Linked DNA regions of Homo sapiens: region 1 is linked to region 2. Evidence: fine-mapped expression QTL. A gene starts in region 2. The other region holds a variant in brackets. All regions are shown on one strand. Distances are between the middles of the regions.

What was found. PIP is the estimated chance that this variant, and not a neighbour inherited with it, causes the effect.
Region 1: its variant is fine-mapped to the expression of GLIPR2 in whole blood (TOPMed, PIP above 0.99).

What each region holds. Positions count from the first base shown.
Region 1 is chr9:36,162,503-36,165,402 of GRCh38, forward strand. GLIPR2 (GLI pathogenesis related 2) reads left to right here. Exons shown (of 5, transcript NM_022343.4): 5 at 1-1,404. The coding sequence ends at 20. Among named protein-coding and RNA genes, the nearest start is that of CCIN, 5.4 kb to the right of the region's middle. RefSeq lists an enhancer at 1-410. The variant C/T (reference allele first, on the strand shown) is at 1,432.
Region 2 is chr9:36,135,370-36,138,269 of GRCh38, forward strand. It overlaps GLIPR2 (GLI pathogenesis related 2), which reads left to right and starts at 1,364. Exons shown (of 5, transcript NM_022343.4): 1 at 1,364-1,422. The coding sequence starts at 1,410. RefSeq lists silencers at 1,016-1,585, 1,616-1,665.

The DNA.
Region 1 (2,900 bases), 27 kb after region 2:
TCCTGCCGCCGAAGAAGTAACTTGTTAAATGTAATGGGAAGGTGGCAGACTTAAGAACGTGGATATGAAGTGCCTAGAACCACCACAACCTGGCTGTGCGTCTGTCCCTGTGGGTGTATGTGCTTGTGTGTGTGATGCATGTGAGCGTCTCTGGCACACACACTTGGACATACAGTTCTGTGTGCGCTCATTCTTATTACAGGAGTGAGCAAAGGAAGCATTTACCCCGATGGTTACCTAGACCACGATTATTTGGATTGGGGGGAGGGGGGATCCGTTTTTTTTTTTTAATTTTTTGTTATTTCTAAGCAAACCTCTTTTGTACTTTTCTTACTTCTAATATCCATCCCTGGACTTTTTGTATTCCAAATGTTTGTGATGCTGAGAAGTGAAGTTCATTTTATGTGATCTTCATGCGTCGTAATCTACTTTTGGTAGATAATTAAGATTATTAAACCCTCATTTAAATGTGACATAAAATACAGCTTTAAGCACATAAATACAAAGCAGCTTCCATCAGGAACATGGAGCAGGCAGGGACTCCATTTTACAGAATTACTGAGATTTCTCAGTTGTAAAACATGATGTCATCCTGCATGCCTCCTGGAATTCTCCAATGGGGTCGCCAAACAACAAATGGAGAAAAAAAGTTTTACTTCCTTGCATTCTTCTACCTTTAAATAGCAAAGTACCACTACCACCACCACCTCTTGCCCCCTTCCCTCTTTTCTTAAACTTCTGGCATTTCAGAGCTCAGCAGGCTACCCCTGGTTTCTGGAGAGTTGGGCTAGGCCTGAAGCTCCCCCTCCCCCACCTCTGCTAGGCAGCCCAGGCCTGGTCTGGGAGACAGCCCCTCACCCTGCCTGGGCTCTTGGCCAAGCGGCCTTGGATGGATGAAGTCAGAGAGGTGGGGTGAGGGTGAGCTTACTCAGGGCCCCCAGAGGAAGCCCTCAGCCTCTGCCCTCCCCCCACACAGGGCGGGAGCCCAGGCCTGTTCCTGGCAGCTGTGGCTGCAGCTGTGCTCCTGCTCCCTCCTGGAATGTGCGACAAGCCCAAATGTTCCGGGGAGGCGGCCGGGGCAGGGGGCTTAGAAGTGCTAATATGGTTCTGTGTTTTGCCTGAAACGATACCAGGTTCCCCTGAATAGCAACTTTACAAGGTCCATGTGGGAGGGACCAACCCAGATGCCCTGCTGAGTGTCCCTGAAACCATGGCAGCTCCATCTGTCAAGATGGCAGGGGCCGGAGTGAGGGGGCTGCTGGCTTAACAGCAGGCATCTGGGCAGGCCAGTCCTCAAAGCAGCTCCTGAAGGTCTGTGTTGCACTGTCACCAGTCTCAAGCTATGCCTCTAATTTCACCAGGGATATTGACTAAGAAGACAATAAAATCTTTTTCTTTGTGTAATAACCTCCTCCAATGTGATTCATACTT[C/T]ATTCTCCATGGCTGAGACAATCCGTGACTCTGAATCCCTCTCTCGATTAACCCCAGAATACCTGCAACCCATTCCCCGTGGACTGTGTTGCTTAAGTGGCCAAGTTTTAAGCCATCTGACCCACCAGCACAGAGCTGATTGGACTAGAGTGGACACTGGATCCAACGGCAGCCAATCACCAGGCTGGCCATGGACTGGGAATTTCAGCTAAGAATTATGGAGAGAATTTACCAGTGGAACTGAAAAAAATAAGGATGCCATAAATTGGAATTAGGGCCATGGCAAACCAAAGCTACTTGCAAGCCAAGTTATGAATAGGAAATACACAGAAGCGAAGAAGCCAGTTATTGGAGGTACAAAAGAGGAGGAGATGCTGAGAATATTCTTGAATGTTCCTGAGTTTTCTAGCTCCAGCCCAAATCTGTATATCTTTAAAATATGCCCCTCATTTTCCTCAGGGCTTCCAAACAAACTGATATACCAGCCGATAGTCCCCAAAGATTAGAATCATACCATCTCTTCCTAACGGGAGACACCATGAACAGAAAATGTGGCGCCTGGTAGGAAGCTGACGGTGGGTGAAAAGACCCTGCTGAGATCCTTTTCTGGCCCCACCTGGCAAGCTGCCAGCCAATGAACTTCTTGGTGGCTCCTCGGGTCACCCCCCCCACCCCCATACACACACACACACACACACACACAACCAGGTGGTGGAAGCCAGCATGCAGCCAGCCTCTATGGGCTGGAGTTTGTTTCCACAGTTGGCTGGATTGAGGAAAAAGCTGGACCGGGGAGCTTTCCTGGGCTAAAGAAATGCCAGACAGCAAAGCTGGCTGAGCAGGTGGGCACTAATCTCACTTTTAAGGATTTCTTGAAGATGGCAAGCCTCACAATCCAAAAAGAACAAGGACAAACCAAACCGCGGCTCTCCTTTGTAGCCAGAGGGCAGAGGAAGAAGACAGCTCTCTGGTGCAAGCCTCTTCCTCTCCCTGGGCTTCAATTTATCCACCTGTACGAGGTCTGTCACATGGAGTTAGGTCTATCAGTTCTCTCAGGTCCCCATGACACCTCCAGACCCAACTTAATGCTGGAAGTGTCTGATGAGAGAGCTCATTCCTGCCTTGGTGCTCTGGGAGCTGAAACAAAAACAAACAGGCATGGCCACCTCCTCCACTGAAATGCTCCCAAGGCTGAAGCTTGCAGGTGGGAGGGCAGGGGAGAGGACAAAGGAGGTGTGAAGCAGCAGGGCCTGACCCACCCACCCCCTGCTCCCGGGTGAAGATGTCCCAGGAGGCGAGATCTGCCAGCCTGCATGTCCATGGGAGCCAGAAGGTGTCTGGCATCAGCACCAAGAGGCCTCATCATTCACCCAAGTTGCTGCTGCTGCTTTGCAGAAGGTAAGGGCTGAAGAGGCATTAAGGGCTTAATTATTCTCCCAGGGAGACTGGTCTCCGGAGGAGGAGGCTGA
Region 2 (2,900 bases):
GCGTGAGCCACCGCACCCAGCCCCAGGAGTCCCTTTTGAATCAGGGTTGGGCACCAATTTGACCCATACTGAATACTTTAGGTGACTGTAACACAATGGTAAAAATTTGCATATATAAACAGATGTAAACATAGAAACATAGTAAAAATATGGTATCATAATCTCTTGGGACTACCACAGTATATGTGGTCTGGCATTGACTGAAATGTCATTACTCATGACGGTACTAAAATACAGTAGGTGTATTTGCCTGACATGGGGAAAGGAATAGAGAGCACAGTGCCCAGCCATCGCCCTGCGGGACATTCGTAAGCCGTTGGTATTACAAATTCTAGCCTTATCATCAGTGGGTCAGCTCACTTCAGTGCCCATTCATTGAAAAGCCTTAAAATTCGCTTCCTTCATTTGGGGTGTACTGAGCCCCTTCCCCAGAAAGGAGCGCTTGCGGGAAGTCTGGCACAGGTGACTAGGGCTGTGCGGTCAAGTAAGTGCACTTCTCCCACGGGGCAGGGGCCATGGGTGGGACCACATCTCCCCAGTACCTGGTGTGTGCTGCTCCCAGGGTCAGGGCACCTGGCAGTTGGAAAGACCGGCCGACCCCGAGGGATGGGCAGCACTGGAATGGTGGCTCCAGGGCCAGCACTCCCGGAGGAGGGACCGCCTGAGGAAAGGCAGGGAGGTGGGAAATCCCAGAACATGTTTGGGGAATGACAAGACATCTAGTTTGACTGGAGTATGGGGAAAAGGTGGGGCGTTGGGGAGACAGGTCTGGGGCCAGACTGCAGGGGTGGGAATTGGCTTGGTCTGGGAGGCAATGAGGGGCGAGTGGACGGGTCAGAGGCGGCGGCGCTTCCACCCCGACTGGCATTAGAGGGCGTGTCCTAGGAGAGGAGCATCCCCCTCCCCGGACCAGCCGCCCTCCGGAGCCCAGAGTCACCGGAGATGGGGGCACACCCCGGGGCTGCGTGTGTCGTGTCAGGCCGCGGCAGGGAGAGGCCGTCCCCTGGTGGCGCCGGCCGGAACGCCCCTCGTGCCGCGACCGCGCGCCCCTCTGTCCTCGCCGCGCGTCGGCGCAGAGCAGCCACCCGGGGCCCAGCAGGCGCGGGCTTCCCCACGCGCCCCGGGAAGGGACAGCTCGGTGTGGGGTCCGGGAGGCTTGAGCCCCGCGGCCGCATCCGGGGAGCCCTCGGCAGTCGCGGAGCTGCTTCCCAGGGGTGAGCTCTCCGGGAGGCCCACGGGGTGGCCCCGGGCGCCTCCGCCCTCAGCTGTCGCTCCTTATAAGGCGGGGGCCGGGCGGCGCCGGAGGAGGGGCCGCGGCATCAGCCCGGTCCTGGGCTCTGGGGCGGCGCTGGGCCGGGCGAGCGCAGTGCAGCGCAGCCGCGGGGAGCGAGGAGCGCGCGGAGCCGGCCATGGGCAAGTCAGGTGAGCCCGCGGGCTCGCCCGCTGCGGAATGGTTCGGAACCCCGCGCTCCCGGACCTCGCCGTCTCCCTCGTCCGCCGCAAGCCAGGTCCTGGGGAGTGCGGGAGCCCGGGGTGCGGGTGGAGGGCGCGCGGGCGGAGCGCCCCGGCGCGGTTTCCGGGGAACCCGGGGGGAAGGCGAGCCCGAGGGAGGCCCCCGCCGGAGAGCCGGGGATCGCGCCAAGTTGGGCTTCCCGACCCTGAGGGGCTGCGCGCCGCGGCCCGCCAAGGCGTGGCTTCTGCTTTGTTTCAGGAGGCCAGACTTAGAGTTGGAAAAGTCACCAAAGTGTGACAACAGCTCTCGCTGCGAAGCAGTTTGCCCCGCTCGGCTGTCCCGAGGACAGCCCTGAGCATCCCCCTCATCCATTTGTTGTTCCTTCTCTCCTGAGCGCCCGCGCCGTGCCGGGCTCCCCCTGTGCTAGGCTCGGTCTGGCTCCCTTTCTCCTGGGGCACCCCATCCTCTCTACTGTGGCTGTCGGGATGAACTTTCTGCAGCGCAGCTCTCCTCCTGTCGCTCCCTAACACCTTCCTCACCATTGTCCTCAGAGTGAAAGGACACACTCCAGTCCTGCCTTCGGGCCCCTGGGAGTGGGTCCCTAGCCCTTACCTCCGCCCTACACTAGAGCTGTCCAGAAGCTGGTGCACAGGTCCCTTCCCCTAGGTTTCCTTGCCGGGCCTTCACCACCCCAACTCTCAGCCTGAAAATCCCATCCCTCTAGGCTCAGCTCCTGGGCTGGAGCCCATCTGTGATTCCCCCCGGGAGGGAGCGCCCAACCTGGTGTTTTCCTCGCTGCAGCCCTTCCTGTAGTGGGCCGGGGACAAGAGTTCAGCCATAGACCTGTTTCCCACCGGGTCCTCACCCCTGGCTGCCAGGGGCCGTGTTTATCTCAGCATTGCTTCTGCCTCACAGGAGGCTCTTAGAGAACAGCTGTTGAACAGGATTCAGAAGTCCTGCTTCATCCGGATTGTCCACTTCAGATGAGTAAGGCTAGGTCCCTTCTAGGATCTGTCCTCCAAGATCTGGACTCAGGAGATGCCAGCGCTGGGCGCAAGTGGCTTTCCCTGGCCTTGGTCCTAACCAGCCTTCCTAGGCTGTAGAGGCAGGTCTGGCTTTCAGCCCTGGCCCAGCCAATCACTGGCTGTGTGATACTGAGCAAGCCTCCTTCCCTCTGTTCCTCCCTGTCTGTACAATGAGGGTGGCCGTATGAGCCCTGGGGTTCTTCACAGTATGGAAAGGTGATATAATGGGTTGCCATTTAGTTAACAGGATGACAGATGGTGATGGAGCAAAAGTATGGCAGATGAGAGCGAGTCTTTCGAGATATCTGCTTGGGAAATCAACTCCTTTCTCTGTAGAAATTTGTGGAGAAAATCCACAAATTCCCTTAGGCTACTTTTTTTTTTTCTTTCTTTCTGAGACGTGGTCTCCTTCTGTTGCCCAG